Homo sapiens: one gene and its partners. The protein of the gene in region 1 purifies or fractionates together with the protein of each later gene. This does not show direct contact. Each region holds a gene or a part of one and is shown in the gene's direction. Other genes may lie near its edges.

Region 1 (2,173 bases):
TGGATAGAAAGTCACTCTTTGGCAAAAGTGTTAGAATTTGCTTTTGTGCCATCTATTCCTTTTATGGCATCTATCTTGAAAGTAATCTTGTATTGGAGATTGAAAGATGCTGTAATTTAGAAATTAACATGATATCTTAAATTACCTTTATGAAATATAGTTTTGTATAATAGCATAGATTTTCCTTCAAAAAATGAACATTTATATATCTACAAAAATATGGAGAAGAGTAATTTGAAAGCCTACTTTCTGAAGAAAATGGTGGGATTTTTTTTTATCATGATTAAATATCAAAAAATTGCCCTATGAAAACTTTAAATCTCTAAAACATTTGAAATACTACCATATTTGTGATTTATTGAGAATAAAAATCCATTTTGAAATGTAAAATTTTTATGATCTGATTCAGTTTTAAGAAAACATGAATGAACTAGAAGATATTAAAAACATTTGACATTGGTAAGAAATATTGATACTGATATTGATTTTTATATAGGTATTTATTTCAGAATTGATATTTTGAGAAAAATACATGTGAGTCATTTTTTCTGTTTCTCTTTTCTCTTAACGATTATCACTGTAATTCTGAATCTGAAAGGTAAAACAATTAGTCAAAATATTATTGCCATCATTCTACCTGTGTTATGAAACTACTTATTCATAGTTAATTCTCATTAACACTTACATTTCCATAAAGAAAACTCAAGTATTAATAAAAGAGACTTTACTGGCTTAAGAGGGCTGTGAAAGATTTTTGATAGTGAATCATGACCCTAAGGGAGAGATTTGTGTGATAAAAGTATTGTATATAATAGATCAGCGATTTTTGTAAGGCAAACAGAATTTGTAAGTTGGCAGATCTTCCTAAGTTGCAAAATGTAATGATGAGCTTGGTGGAGAAGAATGAGTCGTTCTTGGAATACCTATGTGCAGCCACTACCCATCTCAATGTCACCTTGTTTGCATTCTTGGATAGCTTGTATATGTAGTAGTTTGATGAATAATTTAAAGAAAAACACCTAAAATTTGAAAAATGATTGTAGGATCAAAAAAGGCAGATGAAATTACTTAATACTCAGTGTTTTGGAGAGTATTCCTTTTAGTTTGTTGGTTGGCTGGTTTGAACGATAGAAATATGCAGCATGCAATATATGCTTATATTTCATTTTAATTTCTGATATATAATGAACTTCTTGGGAGAGGTACTGAATCTTTGATGTTTTTTGTCATTGTTCTCAAGTGCAATATAACAATGTAACCAAATCTAGATAATTTCAAAGTTGTCATTAATTTAGTAAGCCTAATATAAACAAATATTTGTATTATTTTTGTTAGCAGGAAAGAGTGATTAAGTGAGGTTATTTACCCCTAAATGGTCCATTCTGCATTGTATTTCAGGCTGGAAATGAATTATTCTTTACCAGTTTTGAAACACTTTGAAATATCCTAAGGTAACTTGGAAGCTGTGTAGTATATCAAATTAATTTGCTACCTAATAACATAGAAAGTAAATATCTTTGTGGTCACCCACATTGGGTGAGACAGAAAATGAATCTGTTCTAAAATTTGTAATTTGCTAACTTGATTTGAGTTAGTGAAAACTGGTACAGTGTTCTGCTTGATTTACAACATGTAACTTGTGACTGTACAATAAACATAAGCATATGGTACCACTTTTGTGTATGGGGTTTATCCTTTCTGTGACGTGTTTTTGTTTTTTGATTACATGAGCTAGCAATAATGCACTAAAAGGATGACCTCAGAGGTAACTTTCTGTAAAACTTCAAATCTTGAATGTCAGTTATTTGATGAAAAGAAACACAAAAAGAGCAAAATGTACCACATTAAAATTCATCCTTAGAAAGGCAAATATGTATTTGCCTGAAATATAAGAATTATTTTATTTCTAAACAAACATTTCTAAATTCATTATGCTAACCTTTATTATTTTTACATTATCAGATTCCTTTTAAAATGCACATTTACATCTTTTATAATTTTTAATTATAGTGTATATATGTCATTGCATATATGCAGTTGCAATATACATATGCAATTCTAGTATAAAAATACCTATTTTTATAAATGAAAAGTACCAAGAAGAAAATTAAGTGTTGAGATGCTTGGGAAATTATACTGAAGTAGCATAATACACCACCGTAAATTCCTATGG
Region 2 (3,500 bases), on another chromosome or scaffold:
CACAGAAGCATTCTGTGTTGTGAGAGAATAGTAGGAGAAACTGAGTTGGTTTTTTTCTGTATCCTCAGAATTGATGTCAGGATTGGGATTTGCTAGAGTGGCTCTAGCTAGAGTGGCTCATCGAAGCATGGTTTAGGAAGAAAAAGGATAAATGGATGGGAAATGAGGAACTTTTGACTCCTGGGTGGTCAGATGGTCACCCCTGCTATGGAGCCACAACTGTGCTGTGCTCAGGTACTTAAAAATTACCAGTGGAATTCAAAGATAGATCCAACTCCAAGGGAGTTGGTTCACTGGGTGCATAAGGAAACGCAAACAATAAGAAACAAACAAAATATACAATCCCTTGATTATTGTTATTTGTGATAGCTAAAATCAAAGTGAAAGAGTGCTGGATTGTACCTTGATGCTAGACCAAGCTCAGGTTTCATTTGGTTTAAGCCTTGGCCACCAGCCTCAAAGCCACCTTGCAAGGGTAAAAAGTACCCCTAAGACCTGTATTTGCTGTATTTTGCCCAGTTTGGAGAAATTTAAAAAGTCAGAAGTTAGAGATTACATTGAGAAATGTGATCTGAAATTGCCTGGGGCAGTAGTCAGGCTTATTAATCAAGATAAAGGCTGACAAATGGGGAAGGGTAGATTTCTGTTGGAAAGGCAAAGCAAATATCTCTAATTCTTACTGATCTGTAACGAAACTGATTTTTTTTGTACCATGCTCATACTGCCATATGGTAATATTGTTGGCAGATTAAACTCCCTTGTGTAAATAAGTCTTATAATACTGATTGATGATTATATGTATTGTGAAATTGAGTTGAAGCCTCCTCAGGATATAATACCTATGGAAAGTGACTGGCCTGAGGAGGAACTGGATCTCACTATCAGCTGATTTCCATCCTGAATAGTTCTGCACAAGGTACAAATAACAGTAGATCAAGGGAAAAGAAAGCTGGTACAAGATGATAAAGATGTTTCTAATGGCTTCTGTCAACCTAAAGGAAGAAACTAAGGCACAAAATACAATTTTAAAGAATTTATTTGCACCATAATGAGGACAGCTGCCCAGCAGACTCAGATCCAAGTGGATTTGAGCTCCATTTGGCCCTTGTTACAAACAGGTTTTTAAAGGCCAAAAATTCGGGACAGGATGTGGGCTGATACAAAGTTGTTTGGCAGGAATTCTCTTTGGTTTACAGAAATAACATTGATTAGTGATTGGCTATACATTGTTCTTTGTATCACAGATTCCAGGAACATGAAGATAATGGGTGAGGGTCACATTGTGCAGTAACACTTTAGATATTTGCCAGCGAGCCTGGAAACTACAAGGAAGGAAAAAAAGAACAAAGTGTTTTTAAACAATTTCCCCTAGGCATGGGGGTGTGTCCTGTGACTAAAGTCTCATTCTCATGTCTCTCTGGGCCTGATAAACTTTGCATACCTCACATTCCTCATACTGCTGAGCTATTTTTTTTTCTCTTCATAGGACCGAGTAGGTTTTTTTTGTTTTGTTTTGTTTTGTTTTGAGACGGAGTCATCCAGGCTGGAGTGCAGTGGCGTGATCTCGGCTCACTGCAACCTCCACCTCCTGGGTTCAAGCCATTCTTGTGCCTCAGTCTCCTGAGTAGCTGGGATTATAGGTGCCCACTACCACACTCGGCTAATTTTTGTATTTTTAGTAGAGATGAGGTTTCGCCGTGTTGGCCAGGCTGGTCTCAAACTCCTGACCTCTGGTAATCCGCCCGCCTCAGCCTCCCAAAGTGCTGAGATTACAGGTGTGAGCCACTGCGCCCATCCTAGTTGCTTCTTTAAACCTATCCCTATCCCACAGTAGCTTCTCCAGATGATAGGCATATTTGTGTTTGTACTCTTGTAGATATGTCTGTTATATAAATGCAACAAGTGTAAACATCCTTGACAGATATATGGACCTTTTTGCTGTAAGGGATCCCTGTTTGAAACCAGGGGGTGGCCTATGATACTATGGTGTATATATTTTGGTTTTTGTCAAGTTCCTGGCTCACAGCTTCTATAACCCTTGCAATTTCCCAAGTGACTAGAGCCGTAAGAGTGTATTTTGTTGAGATATTTGGCCATTTGTCCTCGGTTCCTGAAACAGCTCCAGAGCATAAAAGTGAAAGACAGTCTTTTGTGGGTTTTTTTTTTTTTTTTTTTTTTTAATGAAATCTCACTGTCATCCAGGCTGGATGGAGTACAGTGGCACCATCTCTGCTCACTGCAACCTCAACCTCCGCCTCTCGGGTTCAAGCAGTTCTCGTGCCTCAGCCTACTTAGTAGCTGGGTTTGGAGGTGCCTGCCACCAAGCCCGACTAATTTTTGTATTTTTAGTAGAAATGAGGTTTCACCGTGTTGGCCAGGTGGGTCTCCAACCCCTGACCTCAGGTGATCCACTTGCCTTGGCTCCCAAAGTGCCGGGGTAACAGGAACGAGCCACTGCGCCCTGGGCTATGTTGTTATTTTTAACAGGCCTCTTTCAACCACATCTGAACTTATGTTAATGAGGTGATTTTTGGATAGTCCCTAGATGGCCACATGGTAGGGGGTGCTGGTTGCTAGGGAACAAACCTTCTGCCTTGGGGAGGGCATAGTAGCTAAAGGTTGAGCCAGTGGCCAGTGATTTAATTAATCGTGCCTTTGTAATGAAGTCTCCTTTGTAATGAAGTCTCTGTAAAAACCCAAAGGACTGAGTCCAGGGGGCCTTCAGGAAGGTAAACAATAATACATTCATGTCATGGGAGGGTGGGGCACCCCAGCTCCACAGGGATGGAAGCTCCTGTGCTTGGGACCCTTCAAGACCTCACCTATAAAGGAAAAGATATATAAGTATCTTTTCATCTGGCTGTTCATTTATATCCTTTAAAATATCCTATATAACTGGTAAATGTGTTAGTCCCTGAGTTCTGTGTGCCACCCTAGGAAATTACTTGAACCCCAGGGGGTTGTGGGAACCCCAGTTTATAACCAGTCTGTAAGAAGCAGAGGCAAAAGAACCTGGAGCTTTCAGTTAGCATTGAAAATGAGGGCGGGGCAGTTTTATGAAACTGAGCCCTGAACCTGTGTGATCCGATGCTCTCTCTCCAGGTAGATAGTATCAGAATTGAATTAGAGAACATCTAGCTGGAGTCTGCTGCAGAATCGTTTGCTTGATGTGTGGGAAATTCTCCCTAGGCCTTATGAGAGTATAGAGGGAGAAACTGAGTTTATTTTTTCTACTCCTTATCACAGTTTCATGGTTTAACTCTTACTGTTAAATAATAGGAATTTTTTTTTTTTTTTTTTTTTGGAGACAGAGTCTCACTTTGTTACCCTGGCTGGAGTGCAGTGGTGCGATCTCTGCTCTGCTCACTGCAACCTCTGCCACCCGGATTCAAGTGATTCTCCTGCCTTAGCACCCCGAGTAGCTGGGATTACAGGCGCCTGCCACCGTGCCTGGCTAATTTTTGTAGTTTTAGTAGAGACGGGGTTTCACCATCTTGGCC
Region 3 (3,500 bases), on another chromosome or scaffold:
ATTGCTTTAACCCCAAGGCAGGCAAGTTTCCATGAGACAAGGTTATACTCACAGGTGTGTACTCCCCACAGTCTTTCAATAATTAAATGCCTTTGGCTCTTGGTCCAGGTCATTCCTCTGTAGTTTATTCAGTTTCTGACCCGCAGATGCCTCTGTGGAGCACAAGTCCAGCAAGTTGTAGCCCTAGAAGTACAGGGTTTCAGCTGTAACTTGAAGCAAGCTACAGGTAGCTTCAAGCATGTCACTGTTGTGGGAGCTTCAAGCAAATAGTAATAGGAGATGCAAGCAAGTTTCTCTCTGGGCCTCAGAAGGGAGGGATGGCATCTGCCCCTCAAAGCTCCATTCACCTCTGCATTCTTGATGGCCCCACGGGTGGCTTCGGGCAGGCATAGTCCCCACTCTTATCCTATCTGCAGGCTCAAATCGTTCCCAGCCCACGGCAGAAAGATGTGGAGATGCCTCTGGCCACCACTTTGGGGATCACCATCAAGGGGTCCCTTTAGTAAGCCAGGCTGGCTCTCCCTGCGCACCCCGATGAGGTAGACCTCATTCCCCCGTCTAGGAGGTGGATATGCTAAGGAGAGCGCGGGCCCTGCTCTAGGCCTGGCCCCACTCATCAGCTGTGTGAGCATGACTAAATCCACCAACCCCGCCAACCCTGTTTTCTCTCTGGTAAAATGAGGACACTTCCTTCTAGGGCATTTAAAAGAGATGCTTGTGGAAAAGTCCAGCACAGTGCCTGGTACATAGTAGGCACTTGGCAACTAATAATTATTAGTGTTTTGTTTTGCTTTTTTTTTCTTTTTGAGACAAGATCTCACTCTGTCGTCCAGGCTGGAGTGCAGTGACACGATCACGGCTCACTGCAACCTCCCCCTCCCGGGCTCAAGCCATCCTCCCACCTCAGCCTTCTGAGTAGCTGGGACCACTGGCATGTGCCAAAATGCCCGGCTAATTTTTTGTACTTTTGGTAGAGATGGGGTTTTGCCATGTTGTCCAGGTTGGTCTCGAACTCCTGGCCTCAAGTGATCCTCCCAGTCTGCCCACCTCAGCCTCCCAAAGGGCTGGAATTACAGGTGTGAGCCACTACGCCCATCCTATTCGTGTTATCCTTTAACCAATTTCAGTGTCCAAGTGGATTGAATCTTTACTCACCTTGAGAGACTCCCTGTACCTCGAGACCTTGGAACTTAGCCTTGGAGTTGTTTTTGTCAATCTCTCCCCTTTGTCTCTTCCTACTCTTCCTACCCCACAGAGATGGAAGGTAAGGTGGAGCTAGCCCAAGCTGTCTGCAGCTGGCCTGGTCCCCCGAGTGTCTTCTGATCCTGCTCCCCTAGCTATCCTCAGCTCACCTATCCAGAAGCCTCTCCTGTTGAGCCTCTTGGCTAATGCTGAGTCCTGGGTGTCTGTTGTCAAGTCCTTTGAAACAGCAGTTTGCTGCCACGCAGGACTTTCTGCAGGACTTATAGAGCAGGATCTATCCTCCTGCTCAGTCCCATACCCTCTCCCCTCTCCCCGTGTCCCTAGATGTCACAGCATCTGAGGGGAGGCCTTTTAGAACCAGTAAAAATCTCAAAGTAATAGGGATCTGTATGTTTAGAAACAGATATTTATAATGTTCTCAAAAAATGAACATCGTGGGCCGGGCGCAGTGGCTCACGCCTGTAATCCCAACATTTTGGGAAGCCAAGGCGGGTGGATCACTTCAGGTCAGCAGTTTGAGACCAGCCTGGCCAACACAGTGAAACCCCATCTCCGTCTCTACCAAAACTACAAAAATTAGCCAGGCATGGTGACAGGCACCTGTAATCCCAGCTATTTGAGAGGCTGAGATGGGAAAATCGCTTGCACCTGGGAGGCAGAGGCTGCAGTGAGCCGAGATGGTGCCACTGCACTCCAGCCTGGGTGACAGAGAGACTCTGTCTCAAACAACAACAACAACAACAAAAACATTGTTACCTGAAGATTGTCCAGTAAATCAAGTGAATGATGACATTTTAAAAATTAGCTTTAATGACTGGGCGCAGTAGCTCACACCTGTAATCCCAGCACTTTGGGAGGCCGAAGTGGGCAGATCACGAGGTCAGGAGATGGAGACCATCCTGGCCAACATGGTGAAACCCCATCTCTACTAAAAATACAAAAATTAGCTGCGTGTGGTGGCGCGCACCTGTAATCCCAGCTACTCTGGAGGCTGAGGCAGGAGAATGGCTTGAACCCGGGAGGTGGAGATTGCAGTGAGCTGAGTGCATGCCACCGCACTCCAGCCTGGCAACAGAGCGAGACTCCACCTCAAAAAAAAAAAAAAAAGCTTTATTCTAGCCGAAAGAATAGAATTAAGAATAGTAATAGCTGAAAGTGGTTTTTAACCCATTCTGAGCTTCAGAATGATCTGAGGAGCCTTTTGAAAAATAAAGACATTTGGACCCAGATCCAGTGAGTCTGTTTGTGGGGTGGGCCGGGCCTCTGTCTGTTCAGGGAGTAAGGGAGAACCCACCCCTGAGTAAAACTTTACAACGGCATTTCATCAGGGCACACTGGCCACCTGTCTGTGCGTTTTCATAGAATCCACAGTGACTTGCTCTCAGGGCCCTGATGGGTGATTCAGACCCCACATGGCTCTCCTCAGGGGGGTGAGGAGGAGAGGGTGGGGGAGTCAGGCTCTAGTTCCTGAATCAGACCAAGCCTCATTCTTGCTTTCCTTCCATCCCAGCCCTGTGGGCAGCTGACAGGCATCCCTCCCGCACCATCTGCCACCCATCCAGGCCCACCTTGAGCCTGTTTTCAAGGCAATCTGTGAGAAGCTCCTGAGTGAGAAACACTTCCTTACATATTCTGTTTAAAAAGAAAAGGTCTGTCCATGTGCATGGTGCATTTCATCAGTTGGAGACTCTTCTTTAAGACCTCAGGGGCATGGGGGGATTGTGAAAGATGCAGCTATGACAAGCACTCACAGAGGAGGAATTGGGGCACGGGGGACTCGGGGGTGTCTGGAGAGCAAGCTCTGGAGTCAGCTGAGCCCTTTGCCAGCAGGCACAGAGCCCTCTCTATGGCGGGCCAGGTGGGTGCCCTTCACCCGGCACCCTGTGAGAGTGCCATTGTGCCTGGCACAGAGGCAGCGCCCAGGAAATGTTTTTCCACCAAATGACTTTTTAAGTGAGCAGAGAAGAGGCATCTGCAGCGGGGCTGGGAAGAGGATAGGACAGAAGAGAAAAGAAAGGGAGAATAAGAACTGTGTGAACTCAAGGAAGCCCTATAGCTTTCCGCAGGGGCCCATTTCCTCAGGGTCATGGGGATGCAAAGAGATAATGAATGTTAAAGAATTCACCTGTCAAATGTGAGCTCACCTGTGCATTCTCTTCTCCATGAAGCATGGGAGCTTGCTGGTTCTGAGGTCTCTTCCTACTCCGGCCATCTTGGTGGTTCTACCTGAGTGCGTGGAGAGGGCTGGAGTTCGCAGCTGCTCTTCATCAAGGGCCCTGCCCCTGGGTGAATGGGAG
Region 4 (3,500 bases), on another chromosome or scaffold:
ATAACTTTCCAGACAAAAAATTTATCAGAATACATGAACCAAAACAAATTTTTCTTGACCCACTGAACAGGTGTATCTTATGGGAAAAACTACAGTGGCTTTCCTGTAAGGAGGCTTAACTATGAGTCATAGAGGAGAGGTAGATATTTTAAGAGCTTTTAAGGAATAATTTCTTCCAATTAATGAAGGAATTCAGGATCTTTGAATTAAGTGAATTATAGTGCTGCAAGGTACACTAAGTTCAAATGTTTAAGTATTATTATTAAATATGTAATGAATCAGATTCTGTACTTCTCAGTCACATCTTACTGCTTTAAGAGCCACATTAACAATAAATTATACCCAACTCCTCTGGAAGAATTAACTTCTTAATTTATGCTGGTTATAGAGTCTGAAATTCAATATGTTGTGACTCTCAGTTTGATCTATTTATCCTCTGAAAACAAATTGTAACCACATATAAAAAATATTCATGCCTTTTTCCCAAATAATAACTAGCCTCTATTCAGAAAATTAATTCCTTTTCATTGCAGAGTTGCAATTTTCTTTATTTCATTTCTCTCTCCTTTTTACGTATACTGTGGTTGCTTCCAGTCAGGGAAGTTTGCCAGGAGAAATCATTTCATTGATGAATTCATTTCTACTCTCATGTCTGCACTAGAGATTCAAGATCTTGCTTAAAATTTTATGTTGTGGGAATTTTGCTTCTGGCAAAAATTCAGGTTTTTCTGGAAGCATAAGCTGCGTTTTCTCATTCCCTTTAACTCCGAAAAGATTTGAGTACTGTCTAAAGTGAGAGATTTGCTTGACCACCCATTTGCTGACCGTTCAGACTGTTGCATGGAAATGGAACCCCCTCAGTCAGGACCAGAAGATCTCAAAGGAAGGCATAATTAAGAAGATGAGCCTGTGTTTCATTTTCAGTTACCATCTGCTCAAGTGTCTACTAGGTGCAGTTTCAGCACTGAGCATTTTATGTACATTTTCTCATTTCATTCTCCTCAAAACCCTTTGATATTGGTGTTTTCATCTTACACCTTTTACAAATGAGGGAACCCGGCACAGAGAACTCAGATAAGTTGCCTAACATCACAAATCCTGATTCAGCCTGTGTATTCCTTCCCAATCCAGAGCCTGAGGCTTTTCCTCTTTTCATTCCCAGGATCAATTTGCTGTTTGGCATTCACTAGCTTGCTTTCATGTGATGTGATGGTACATTTCACAGTCCCATTTGCTTTTCTGAGGATCCCTTTCATGATTTTGCCCATGTACTCTTGTATTACTTTTTTATCCTTTTTTGAAAATTAAGGCATAATTTACATTTTTACCATCTTGAAAGTTTTCACCGATGCATATGGTCATGTAGCAATCACTGTGATCCAGATACAGAATCGTTCCAGCCATGCTACTTTAACTACTCATTCACTAGATGTTCACTAAGTGCCCGACATCTGCAAGGCACCATGCTAGGCGCTGATAATTCAGCTATGCATCAACATACAGAGACTTAAACTCATGATGCTCACAACCCAGTTAATCTGATTCAATCCCACAATGAAAACTTTCTTTAAATCTTGTTTTAAAGATACTTTTTCTGTTCACAACTAGTCGAAAATAAGTCTTTTCCAAATATCTCTTAATGTGTTGAATATGTTAACTCTCAAATACTTTAAAATGCTTCCTGCTCCATTAAGAATTCCAATGGTAAAAGTCAGAGCCAATTTAAACAAGAGAGAGATATGTGTGTATATACATATATAAATGTATATATATGCATATACATAAAAGTGTATATATATATATGTGTTTGTGTATATATATATAAAATATATACATTTAAATTGTATTTCAACTTTTAGTGTCTTATTGAGATTAATTCCTAGAAGTAACTTCAGATTACAAAAGGAAACCAATTTTTCTCTGTGTTTAAAGAAATTAAAGAAATTAAAGAAAGAAAAAATATCATATAGCACAATCTTAAAACACTTGTATTTTAGAAATGTCCTGTTTAATACCATAGCCACTAGGCAGATGTAGCTATGTAATTTAAAATTTATTAAAATAAAACAATTCAGTTCCCTAATCACACCATCCACATTTCAAGTGCTCAGTAATCTGTGTGGCTAGTGGCAATCACATGGGACAGTGCAGACATGGAACATCTCCATCTGGCAGTGTTGTTTTGGAACAACAACAAAAAACGCTGGTAAAATAATGATTGATAGAACTCATGAGGAGTCATCAACTCAACTAGAAAAATTTCTAAAGTCATTGAAATTGTTTGAAGTGTTCGTGCATGTGAGTTAGTTATGGTTTGTGTTGTGTTAGCCTGCAAACATCCTAGAAACATGATGGGGCCTTTGGTAGAGCAGTAATAGGTGAAAAGAGTTCAGTGGCCACTTTGTAGCCTTTATGGACTGAGGTTGAACAGAAGAGATTAACTGCTGGTTCGGGAGTGAGTGCTCTGCTCCCATAGTACATTTTCCATAATTTGTTCTGTTATCCACTGTATTGTTTTTCAATTTATCTGTCTCCTTGACTCGACCACATTATTTGAGGGTAAAGAATCCATTCTTACATTCATCATTCATTCATTGTTAAATTCATTCATTGAAGAATTCAATGAAAAATTCAGTCAACATTGCATTCTTGAACTTAGCACTTACAGTAGGTGCCAATAAATCTTTAATGTATAAGGTTATAGAAAGATTGTACCATGAAGCTTCTTAGAAAAAAAAATAGTTGTTTGTTGTTGAGACTGGCCAATTTTCACTGGTCTTTCCCTCTTTTGATTATGATCTCAGTCCGGGAGTAAGGTCAGCATTCACCTTGACCTGTCCATCTTTAATGTCACTTCTGGTACGCGAACTTCACTTTCACTGATTCTCCCAGAAATACACGTAAGCATATAGGCATCCTCTATGAGGTTGGAGCTGTCATGAATGTGATTAATGCCTGTACAAGCATTACATAGATCCAGACACTATCTGTGCATGGAAAATAAAGTTCCTGTGATTGATACTGAGTGTGTACTTACAGAAGCAGTCTTGAGTGAGCTTTTAATTCTAGAGGAGTTGGCACCAATGAGTTTTGGATACATCCCAGGGGGCCAGAACATCAAGTCAGCTAGTGTGCCACTTTGTATGTGTACAAGTGCATGCGCCTGTGCTGCTCTGGTGTTGGGGAGGAGAGGGCAATGAGGGATGCAGGATGGTCAGTAATGAGTAAATAAAGTATCTTGAGCCCATGAACACTGTATTTTCAGTCAGCCAAAAGCTATCATATTGGTTTAAGTCTTCTCTAGTCAAGAAGGCCGTAAGAGATAGTGACACAAAACAGTTTTGAAAACCAGGCAAATGATGGGAAGTGCAGTTTTATCATGTGGATGTACGTGCTTTTGGAGTTTGTCAATAGTTTTATCATTAATCCTAGAGAGGATGTGCTACACAAGTTTAACTCTGCACATAGCAAATATTTGAACTGAGTTGAATTCAAATGGA
Region 5 (3,500 bases), on another chromosome or scaffold:
CTAGTGATGTTGAGTTGGGCTTCTCCATAAGGGTGAGGAATGTTTTTAGCTCTGGCTTCTGTTCTAAATGAATAGTCGAAGAGTTTTTGCCTCCTTCTGGCACAAGGTCATGTCACTGCTGTGGGAGGCGAAGTAAGATGATACTCAGATATGAACCTTCTTTTTATGAGCTGGGCTTGCTTTTTTCCATCCAGAGTCAATTGGCTTAAGTGGAATTTGGGCCATGGCCTCGTGGAAAGTTGTTTTTCCTTCTGATGTTTATGGACAATTCAAGTTTCCACCCACTGGGCTATTTTTCCATCCACTTCAAGCCAGTCTAGTGTGCGGCATAGTTTTCATGGTGTCATTACAATATTTCTAGATTGTAAAATATAACAAACCTCTTTTTCTTTCTATTTTGGCATTTAGTAAATAAGAAATTAAAACAGTATCTTAAAAGGGTAGCTATGATGGAACACTATCAGAGGGTATTATAAATATGGGAATATTGTGGACTTAATTATGTAGATCACATTCACCACAAATCTCTATTTCTTCAGGGTGGACAAGGAATACAATGACTCCTTCATGTTTGAGATATTTTTAGGGATAAAATTTAATTCATTTTTCTAGGCTTTATTTATTGAACCATTTTTTCAGAGTGGGTTGAGATAAAGTGATATCTCAAACAGAAAAAAATCATATCCAGTTTTCTAAAAATAGAAGTCTTAGATTTTTTTCAACTTCACACATAGTGTAACAAAAAATCAAGCGCTGTATATTAATCTTGAAAAAAGTGACTCATAGTAACTGATAATTGGGCTCTTAATTCTAAGAATTGCTCTTAGCAAAAGCTAAAACATAATTTTAAAACACAAATAGCATTCTGTCTCTAACCCTTTGCTCCCTTTTCTTCCTGCTTTTACATTTACCTATTTCTCCTTCTTTTCTCTCATTTCTCCATTAATTTGGTTGCCACTATTTCCCACCCAACAGGTCCCAGAACGTCTTGCCCAATTCCCTCTTGCTATGATGGCATACATTTCTCTATGTACGGATGTACCAGGAATGCCTGCCCATATGTTGGCATTCTTGGAAGCTTGGACCTTCCTAGCTGATGTTTTCAACACCAGTGCCCTCTCTACTGATTCAATGGCATTTTTCCCCCATTTTTTTTTTTTTTTTTGATTCAAGACCCTGCCTAAGGGTCAGGCAACATTTTCATCACTGCAATGTTGACCTCATTCTCTTCTCAGTTTCCCAACATCAATGTAGAGGCGCAGCTGGAGTTACTCATGTCCATCACATCGTCTCGGGGTCCTACTCCAACAATACAATTTTTCTTGCTCCTGTGGCCAGCCAATTTAACAATATTTATTGTACGTATGTTGGATGCCTAATACTACATTGTGCTGGACAATGTAGCATGTTTAAGAAATAGAACATGGTGTCTATCTCTATGGTTTCACAATATCTAATACTTTGTGTTTGGTACGTGGTGTGAACTTGTGAAATTCTTTATTAGAAATGTATTTAAAGGAGATCTCAATTAAAATCCATTATACCCTCACCCATCTCTGGAAAAGATGCTTTAAAAGTCACAGATTGCTAATCCCAACATTTTATGATTATCTCATACTGTAACCTCCTTGATATGTTATTGTCTTAATGTTTTCCTAATTTCTTTGGGCACTCCTTTTTTCATGTTTTGTTTTGCTTTTTTTTTTCTTGTCTTCCAAATGTGTACATTTATTTCCAAATATTTCAGTTTCCCGCCTTCCTCTCTCCTCTCCAAATGCTTTAGTATTGTCACAACTCTTCTTTGAGCTTTAACTCCTTCACAAGGAAAATTCTCAGATCTGAAGAGAATTGAAGGAAGATTCTCTCTAATGAGCTCTGGACTCACATTTTTAATATTTTTTCAATGAATACTGAAGGAAATCATTCAGGCACAATTCTATTTGGAGGAGGAGATTGAAGTAAAGGACTTCCTGTTATTTTATTTTTATCCCTACCAGACTTTTACGCATAGTGACTGACATACTATATGGTAGGTAGTGTGATGAGGGAAACAGGACAAATAAATATGTCTTCAAGCAGCTAATGATCTACTCAATATATATGTAAGAACATTAAAACACTAATTACTACAACACAGGTTAGAGGAAGATATGTACAATTGTTGCCCTAAGCAGTTCCAATGACAAAGGGATCACATTTTTATGAGAAAAAGGAAAGTGGAGCTCACAAAAGGCTAAATGGTACGCAACGTCTATTTCAAAAGCATTATGTCTGTTTGTTCCTTTAATGCTGTTTATTCTGGAAGGGAAATTGAACTCCTGATTCCTTCGTGTTTTCATTTCACATTTGCCACATAACGTAGCAGAAACAAATTATTGGAAGTGACAACTTAAGAATTCAGACTGAGTTTATTTAGAATCAATATAATTTTTAAGACATGGCACTCCCTGTAGATGTCCTTTTCAGGAAAATTTATACCAGAAGAGAAGAGTGTCCTTTAATGAAAACATATACATGAAGGGAAAGAAGGCAAATCCTTGTACTTCAGCTGTGGAATTTGGGTGAAATCTTGAGTCGGAAATTGAAGGCACCAAAGGTTTTCCAAGGCAAATGCCCCCTCTAGGTGGAGCTATATTTCTTCCCTTGTCTTCGAAGTCTCCCCATCACCCCTTATAGTGACTTCAGCTCCTCCTTTCTCACCATTTGACACCAGCCCCACCCCATCCAACCTGTGCACCCTATTAAGGCAAGGGCTGTCTCTCATTCTCTCAAGAACCCTAGCATATTTAGCATAGAACCATTGAAGATGGCAAATGAGTGAGAAAATAGGCAGCTCTAAATGCCATTCATTCTCTTTGCCCATGTTGTTCCACCCACCTTGACCATCTGTGTTCTATGCCTAATCCCCTTGCCTTACCAAACAACCTGGTGCCAATTTCCTGTTTAAGCCCAAGCATTCCCATTCTCAACTTTGAACCTCCAGAAACTTCTCCCACTCTCTTTCCTTCACTCCCTTCATTACAAATGTCATATAGGCTTGCTGGTTCTCTACAGTGTCTTCCTAATCATATTTCACCTTGATAATTTTAAACTTTTCATAGTTGCCGATTCAAGACTACCTCCAGAATGGAGAAAACCTTACTTACCTCTTCTTTAACAAACCATATTATTCAAAGTGACAAAGCTAGTAATTTGAAGCATTATTTTCATTATAACTTCTATGTAGCTATAAGGCCTGTTTTTAAAAATGTTTCACATTTATTTTTTCATCATATTTTTGTAACTCTACTCAGGTAGATTGAGTGGGATTTTTAAAAAATTGATACAGAAATGCAGGCTTAGAGAAGTTAAGGGGGCCATATTCAATGACATACAGATATGAAAACAAAAGTCTTAAAATTCCTAGTTTGAGTTTATTCCTCTGTAATATAATGCCATCTCTTTCTTAGGCTAATAAATAGATTTTATCTCCCATTTGTCTCTCATGTCAAACCCCAAAT
Region 6 (3,500 bases), on another chromosome or scaffold:
GAAAAAGTAATAGATCTTACCTTCAGGGCATTTACAGTACACTCAGGGAGTGGAGGAAGAAATTGCATAGCCAAGTACCCCCAAATACCTTTAGTAAAAGGCAGAATGGCATTAACAGTGTGTACTAGGGGGTCAGAGGAAGTGAGAGCAGACAGCTCCTCAAAGCCTTTGCTTTAAGTCATGGGAGGTGAAGATTTCCAGGAGAGACTCAGAGGTGCTGGAGAACTTCACAGTTTCCTGTGAAGAAGGATGACTATTTAATGCTCTCGCAGTCTCCAGCCTCTCACAGCTACCCGTACCTACCCAGTTTTCCCCTCGTTCTTCTCTGAGGATTTTAAACTGGACAGCGCTGGAGTTGTTTTCTATTAGTCAATATCCTACGGCAAGGACTCCAGGGTGCACACTCCCAAGGATTTTCGTGTTGTATTCTATGTAAATTGCATCCCTTTCTGGTACTTCTGGAGCTGGCGTGTAGAGGCCAGTGTGGTGCCTCAGGAAATATTATTACTCATCCACATTCACATTTAAGTGTCCAGAATCCTGCTATTATGCATCTACTCTTATCTGAATGAAGTTATTAAATGGAAGGACCTGAGAGGGAAGATTTGGATTTTATCCCTACACCTTGGCTGTCCACTCCTCGGGCTGCCTCTGCCATGTGCTTGCTACCTGGAGAAGGAGCCAATCTCTTTAAAGCTTTCTGTCCATAAAGAGGGTAGAGGGATACTAATAGAGAAAGGTTAGGAGGATGAAGATTTCAACTCAAAGAGAAGGTAGCCATTCTGCTTTAAGCTTTCTGTCCATAAAGAGGGTAAGGGATGCTAATGGAGAAAGGTTAGAAGGACGAAGATTTCAACTCAAAGGCTGTCTCTAATCCTATAAAGGAAGGTCATGCTCTCCCTGCACCTCGTCTGAGGCTGGGGGAGCCACATCAGTGATGCTGTCAGGGAACTGACCCCTGCACTGGGAAGCACAGAGCTAGGGCCATACTTGGGCTTCAAGAGGCCTGTGAAACCTTGGAGATTCTATATCTTCAAGAATGATGTGGGTATGTGTAGTCTTGTATTTCCGAAGAGAAGGAGTTCTTGCCCCCTCCACAATGTAAAGAACCACTAGATTCCAGTCTCTAGAGCCTTTCCTAGCCGTCATTTCCGCTTCTGCTCTGGTGGTGGAACAGGGCTTTGGATGAGGAGCTGTAACCCCAGTGCTTCTGAGAGTGGTAGACAACTCACTGAGTGAACGAGAACACGCCAGGGACAGCTCAGAATGTCAGCGGAGCCTATGGATTGTGATTGCTCTGTGACTATGGGCAGGTCTTTTTACCTTTGAGCAGGGGTTAGAGGGAGCAGCCGGCCAGGCAGTGTGCTCCACCCTTTAAGGGAGAGAGGGTGGAAGGTTCAGGAGCAGAGGAAGGGGTGTGTAGAAAAGCCCTGCCTTGCCTTATAGAGGCAGCAGGACCAGCGGGCAGACAGAAGTGGCAAGAGGGGATGTTGCTGCTTTGAAGTGGTTTCCTGCTTCATAAAAGTGAAAGGCCTCGGCTAGGCTGGGTAAATATTACGTTGGCCTCTGACCTCCCACCTCCCCTGACTGCTCCCCGGTTTCCCATTTTTTTCTCCTGAGGAACAAAAATACCTGAAGGAGAAGAGCCAATTTTTTGAATTTCACTGAGAACAGCGTTCTTAGCGGGAGCCCAGCCCAAGCCAGACAGGAAGACCCAGGCTCCTTCCCCGTCCACAGGCAGGAGGCCCCTCGTGAGTCAGCAAAGCTCTCGTTCCAGGTCTCCACTCCACGTTTTAGGGCAGTGGTGTTTTCCAGGAGCAGGGCCGGCTGGGATTTCACAGTGCCCTGACAACACTGATGCCCCACCCTGACTCCAGCTGCTTAAAACTTTCTAACAAGTCCCTTCACTCTCTGTGACATTAAAACCCAGGCTACGAGGTTTTCTGTAAGGCAAACACCCCACCCCCTGAGGTTTATCTGTAAATGAACAAAATTTGAGTCTACCGCCCCACTCTGAGTGACCCACAGGGGGTCAAGTTCTTCAAGTTCTTCAGCTTTCTTGGCCCACAGACTTAGAGAGAAAGATCTGAACTGCATGGGGAGCTGGAAGCCCCTCCCAGCACAATCCTGCAGGAGGTTTAGGCCCCACTGAGATGGTTGAGAGCAGATGGTCAGGAAGAGCCTGGTGTCAAAGAATCAAACAGGAACTAAGTGCCTGCCTTCACACTTGTAGCCCTTCCCACTTCCTAAAGATTTCTCACCTGTTGACCGGTGCTCACCCTCCGTTTGTTCCCTGGTCCCAGGAGGGAGATAAGAGGTTAGTTACGCTCTGGCAGAATTGGCTCCTGCCCCTTACCCAGCACCTCGGTTTCTCCATCTGTATAATGGAATGAATACTCAAGCACCTTCACTTGTCTTTGTTTCTGGAGCCAGGCCCGGGAAGAGGGTGTTAGGAAAGTTGGAAAAACGACAAGTGCTGGAAACAAGGAAAACTATTCTAAATTTTGGGACAGGTATAAGAAGCGAAACTAGGGTTATTTTCCCCCTCTCTCTCCAAATTTGTTTGGAATTTTCTGAGAAAAGTAAGATTTTATTTAAAGAAAATCTCTATGCTAAAGAATAAAGGGCTGAAGACTTGGTGGAGATGGGACATAGAGAAGAAAGCCAATAGTGGCCCTGCAAGGAGACCACATTCAGGGCTTGTGGTCAGCATTTAGCCAGTGGGATTGGAATTTGAATTCTGCCTTTGCCGCCCTTGGGTTTTTGGTGCCTTCAGAGCTCTGAGAGTGTACATGAATGACACTGTCGTAGGATTGGTAGGTTGGCATTGCTGTGGGAGTCAACCCTTCATGGAATAAGAAAACGCAGAGCTCATGGGTATCTGGCTGCCTGGCTGCAACAGGGCTTGCATCTCTCCTGCACAGAGTAGCTTTTACCCAGGCCCACATAGTGGATGTGAAACCCAAGTCCAAATTGGGTAAGTGCATTGCCGTGAGTCACACAGCAAGCTGCCATTCACTGCCCTCCAATTGCTAGGAGGTTTGTTTGCCCCAGCGTCACCCGCCACACTCTCTTGATCTGCCCACTTAGCTACCTTTTCTTTCCAGTCTCTTGTCCCCTGCACTGTGCCCAGTGACCTCCCCCATCTCTCTCTTCCTTGGTTTTGAGCAGACAGGCATCTCACGAGAGCTCCTGGGGGCAGGGACATGGATGGAGCAGACACATCACAGAGTGTGTTAGCAGGAGTGGAGTCCAGGAGCCCAAGCTGGACGCTGGGGCTCAGGGATCAGATCCTTGGTAGCACTGATCATCGGTCAAAACCTAGCAGGATGTCTGGGGAGAAGCATTAGCTGTCTTCTAGTAGGCCAAGAAGCTCCCCAAGCAACACAAGGAGCTTTGTCCCTGTTGGAAATGCAGAGTGCGGGATGGGGCCTGTGAGAGGAGAGTCCTAAACATCCCATAGCACTGTCCAAGAGCCTGCTGCAGAAAATGGGGTCAGC
Region 7 (3,500 bases), on another chromosome or scaffold:
CCCATTATATAAATGAACTGCTTTATGCTTTATGTTACCACCATCTAATGATCATTGAAAAAGTTTTGATGGTAATGCATTAATGTAATTATTAATAAAAGAAATTAAGTTCTTTTGTTCTTCAGAGAAGCTTTCTTTATAAATTGCTTTTGCAAAAGAAATTATTTGTTTTAATTAGGTATCTTGCATAGAAGAAATTTGCTATTGCTCTCTCATGATAATGCACTTTATACTACTTTTGCTGGCAGTATGTGGACCCCTTTTATCCCTATATTGTTATGTCAGTTGTCACGACATAGCTCATTATAACACAGATGTACAACTGTTGTGAATGAAATTGTGTTCCCTTAACTTCCCTGCAACACATCAACTACAAAAACTATATAATTGTTTTTGTAAACATGTACAAAAACTATGTAATTGTTTGTTTTTATTTATATCAACTCTGCCTCATCCCTAAAAGGATTGCGGGCTACTTCATGATGATATTAAACTAGCATTAAGAGGGGCAATGAGACAAGTTCTTACTCTTTCATGCAGGTTGGAATGCAGTGGCGCAATCACAGCTTATTGCAGCCTCGACCTCCCCAAGCTGAAGCAATTCTCCCCTCTCAGCCTCCCAAGCCGCTGGGACCACAGATGCACGCCACCATGCCTGGCTAATTTTGTATTATTTGTAGAGACAGGTTTTCACCATGTTGCCCAGGCTGGTCTCGAACTCCTGGACTCAGGCAATCCACCTGCCTCCCAAAATGCTGGGATTACAGGTGTGAACCACCATGCTGGCCTATTTTTATATCAATGGCTTATTAACTTGTGGTATGATCATCAGCATATCACCTATTTCTGTGGCTTAGTTTCCTAATTTGTAGTGATCCCTCAGATTTTTTAAATAAGGGTGAGAAGTTAGAATGAGATTCATGTTCTGGAGAAGATAAAGCTTCAGAGAATGTAGAGTATGTGAGTTCAGAGAGGGGACAACTCCTGAAATAGGTTTACCAAGAGGATCCTGTGTACAATGGGTGCAGAAGGAGCCCTGCACAAGGGGGCTGTACAAGGAGGTGAATGGGGCTGAATTCCAGCTTAGCTTCTGGAGGCAGGAATGACCTTTTGTAATTTATCTACCCAGAGGGAATATCTTTTTCTGATTTGCACAAAGGAGCTTTACTGTGCTGTCTGCCCCTGTCTACCAGGTTTAGGTTTCATCTCAGTTGCTAACTCTGATCAGTTGGTGGGGACTGCCTGAATCCCTGTATGGTGTAAGATATCTATGGGTAGTGGAGGGAGTAGGCAGTGGCATGTATTTGTAGATTCCGAGTCTTGAACTTTTAATGGTTTAGAATGTAGATATAAATATGTTTATTTTGCAGTGTTTGAGAGTGCAGGCTCAAGAATCAGACTGAGTACAGAGTCTAGCTTTTTACTTACCAGTTTTATGTCCTTGGGCAACTTCCTTAATTTATCTAAACCTATCTCTGTTCCTTATTTATAAAATGGAGATAATGATAATTTTTCCCTCATGGAATCACTGCAAGAATTAAATGGGCAAATGTGTTTAAAGTGCAGTGTAAGCATAGTTCTTAGAACATAGCAAGTATTTAGTAAGTGTTAACTTTCGTTGTAGTAATTGTTGTCTGTCAGAGTACATGGATGTCCCTTAGTGTGTCATATCCTAGTGTCTACCTAGTCCGTCTCTCTTTTCTCCACAAATTCTACTTGCCTTGCTGCCTTTCTCCTGGGTAATTGCAATAGCTTTGCATGTTGTCTTTCCACTTCCAGTTGAGAGAGATCCTATCTGATGGCCCTGAATTTCTAAATAAGGTGGGCATAATACAAAGCCATCTGTTGAAATTAAGGGGAACAAGAGTAGGGCTGGGACTAGAGATGAGAAAATATGTGGAACATCCCTTGCAGAGCAATTAGGAGGGCATCTACAAGGATCATTTTGTTGCCCCGAGATCAGAACACATGAATTTGAATTGAGTCCCTTCATTATCATTTTAGAATTTCTGTAGTAGTATTCTGTAACCAGACTGAGAGTACAGAAAGTAGATGGGGACTGTCCAGGGATGAAAATGGCTGTGAATATGTGGAAGATAAAGAGGGCAAGGATTCTAGGAGAGTCAGATGGAAACGACTGACCACAAGTTCCAAGATCTGGAACCAGGCAGTTGAACCTCGATTGGAGATAGCAGGCTGAGAACACAAGGAGAGGTAAAGACAAAGGTTTACCTGAGGATAAAGACTAGGTTCCCTGGCTGAGCGCAGTGGCTCATGCCTTTAAGTAATCCCAGCACTTTGGAAGGTTGAGGTGGGAACATCACTTGCGCCCAGGAGTTCAAGTCTGCAATGAGCTGGCAAATTGTGCCACTGCACTCCAGCCTGGGCAACCGAGCAAGACCCCGTTTCTTAAAAAAAAAAAGAAGAATAGATTATTCCCTGAAGAAGGGAAAATGGATACATAAATTGTGATATACACATACATAGAAAATAAAAGGGATGAGTGAACTTGAGCTAACTCTAAGCAAGAATAGCCAGTTGCAGAGAAATACCATTTATGTAGGATTTTTAAAAATGTAAAACAATTTTGTTTCTAGACTTTACTTGAAGCCCCCACGTCAGTATTTTAGGCAAAATTCTCACCAGTTTGTTTCTCTGGGCTCCCAACTCGTGATGGATTAGAAAGAGCGAATTTTAAAAGTTACCCCATTAGGTACAATAAATGACTCATTAGTGAAGTTGGAAGATGCAGAGAACTATGAAATTTGACACAAAAAATGATAAGGCATATGAGTTTCGGTAAAATTAATGCAGGGTAAACAGTCTTATGCCTAAATAGCACTGTTAAGGCAGCATTTGATAGCTGATATTCCGTGATTATGACCTTGTGCCATCAAAAGTCCATTTGAATTTTATTTGGTATATTTTTATGAAAAGAGAGTATGTGATTATTTTAACATGTTCATGAAAATGGTTATGACTTTTTTAACTTTTGGAAAATAAAAGGAGTAAGCTTCATATATTTGGAAAATTCATGCTTGTTTGAATAAAGAATTACTGTAGTGTGAAACGAAGCTGATAGCTTAAGATATAAATGACAACATAGAATTGTTCCTTGAGTTATATTAATATACTTTTTGAATTTTTTTGACAGATTGTTTAACAAACAACAGTGAAGAATTATCAAACAGCACAGTATATTTCCTTAATCTATTTAATCACACCCTGACCTGCTTTGAACATAACCTTCAGGTATTTTATATATAATATTTAAAATTAAAATGCTGCCTTGTACAAAGGAATAATGTGCAGTTCCAAGTTTTTAGAGCACTAATTATTGATATTTATCTAAATTCATGATGTAAAGGAGTTAGTGGACCTGGATTTCTGCTCTTAAGTAAGTTCTTCTACTTACAAATCATGAAAACCTCAGTTCTCTCATTGTAAAATGGAGATAATATCTATCCTGCCTATCTTAAAGTATTTTGTAATGAGAATCT

What was found.
Region 2: the proteins of ITGAV (region 1) and VDAC2 fractionate together in Homo sapiens (co-fractionation; one large-scale study listed by BioGRID). This does not show direct contact.
Region 3: the proteins of ITGAV (region 1) and ITGB5 purify together in Homo sapiens (affinity purification with western blotting; 2 studies listed by BioGRID, with this or other methods). This does not show direct contact.
Region 4: the proteins of ITGAV (region 1) and PTPRZ1 purify together in Homo sapiens (affinity purification with western blotting; 2 studies listed by BioGRID and IntAct, with this or other methods). This does not show direct contact.
Region 5: the proteins of ITGAV (region 1) and PTN purify together in Homo sapiens (affinity purification with western blotting, with the first as the bait; one study listed by BioGRID). This does not show direct contact.
Region 6: the proteins of ITGAV (region 1) and PLXNA2 fractionate together in Homo sapiens (co-fractionation; one large-scale study listed by BioGRID). This does not show direct contact.
Region 7: the proteins of ITGAV (region 1) and OSTM1 fractionate together in Homo sapiens (co-fractionation; one large-scale study listed by BioGRID). This does not show direct contact.

The regions. Positions count from the first base shown.
Region 1 is NC_000002.12:186,679,229-186,681,401, forward strand, and holds the end of ITGAV (integrin alpha-V isoform 1 preproprotein), read left to right. Parts: 3' UTR 1-1,673; downstream 1,674-2,173.
Region 2 is NC_000010.11:75,224,296-75,227,795, forward strand, and holds part of VDAC2 (non-selective voltage-gated ion channel VDAC2), read left to right. Parts: intron 1-3,500. UniProt on the Homo sapiens protein: Non-selective voltage-gated ion channel that mediates the transport of anions and cations through the mitochondrion outer membrane and plasma membrane.
Region 3 is NC_000003.12:124,796,866-124,800,365, reverse strand, and holds part of ITGB5 (integrin beta-5 isoform a precursor), read left to right. Parts: intron 1-3,500.
Region 4 is NC_000007.14:121,876,161-121,879,660, forward strand, and holds part of PTPRZ1 (receptor-type tyrosine-protein phosphatase zeta isoform 1 precursor), read left to right. Parts: intron 1-3,500. UniProt on the Homo sapiens protein: Protein tyrosine phosphatase that negatively regulates oligodendrocyte precursor proliferation in the embryonic spinal cord. Required for normal differentiation of the precursor cells into mature, fully myelinating oligodendrocytes.
Region 5 is NC_000007.14:137,337,234-137,340,733, reverse strand, and holds part of PTN (pleiotrophin isoform 1 precursor), read left to right. Parts: intron 1-3,500.
Region 6 is NC_000001.11:208,234,385-208,237,884, reverse strand, and holds part of PLXNA2 (plexin-A2 precursor), read left to right. Parts: intron 1-3,500. UniProt on the Homo sapiens protein: Coreceptor for SEMA3A and SEMA6A. Necessary for signaling by SEMA6A and class 3 semaphorins and subsequent remodeling of the cytoskeleton. Plays a role in axon guidance, invasive growth and cell migration.
Region 7 is NC_000006.12:108,054,242-108,057,741, reverse strand, and holds part of OSTM1 (osteopetrosis-associated transmembrane protein 1 precursor), read left to right. Parts: intron 1-3,154; coding exon 3,155-3,252; intron 3,253-3,500. UniProt on the Homo sapiens protein: Required for osteoclast and melanocyte maturation and function.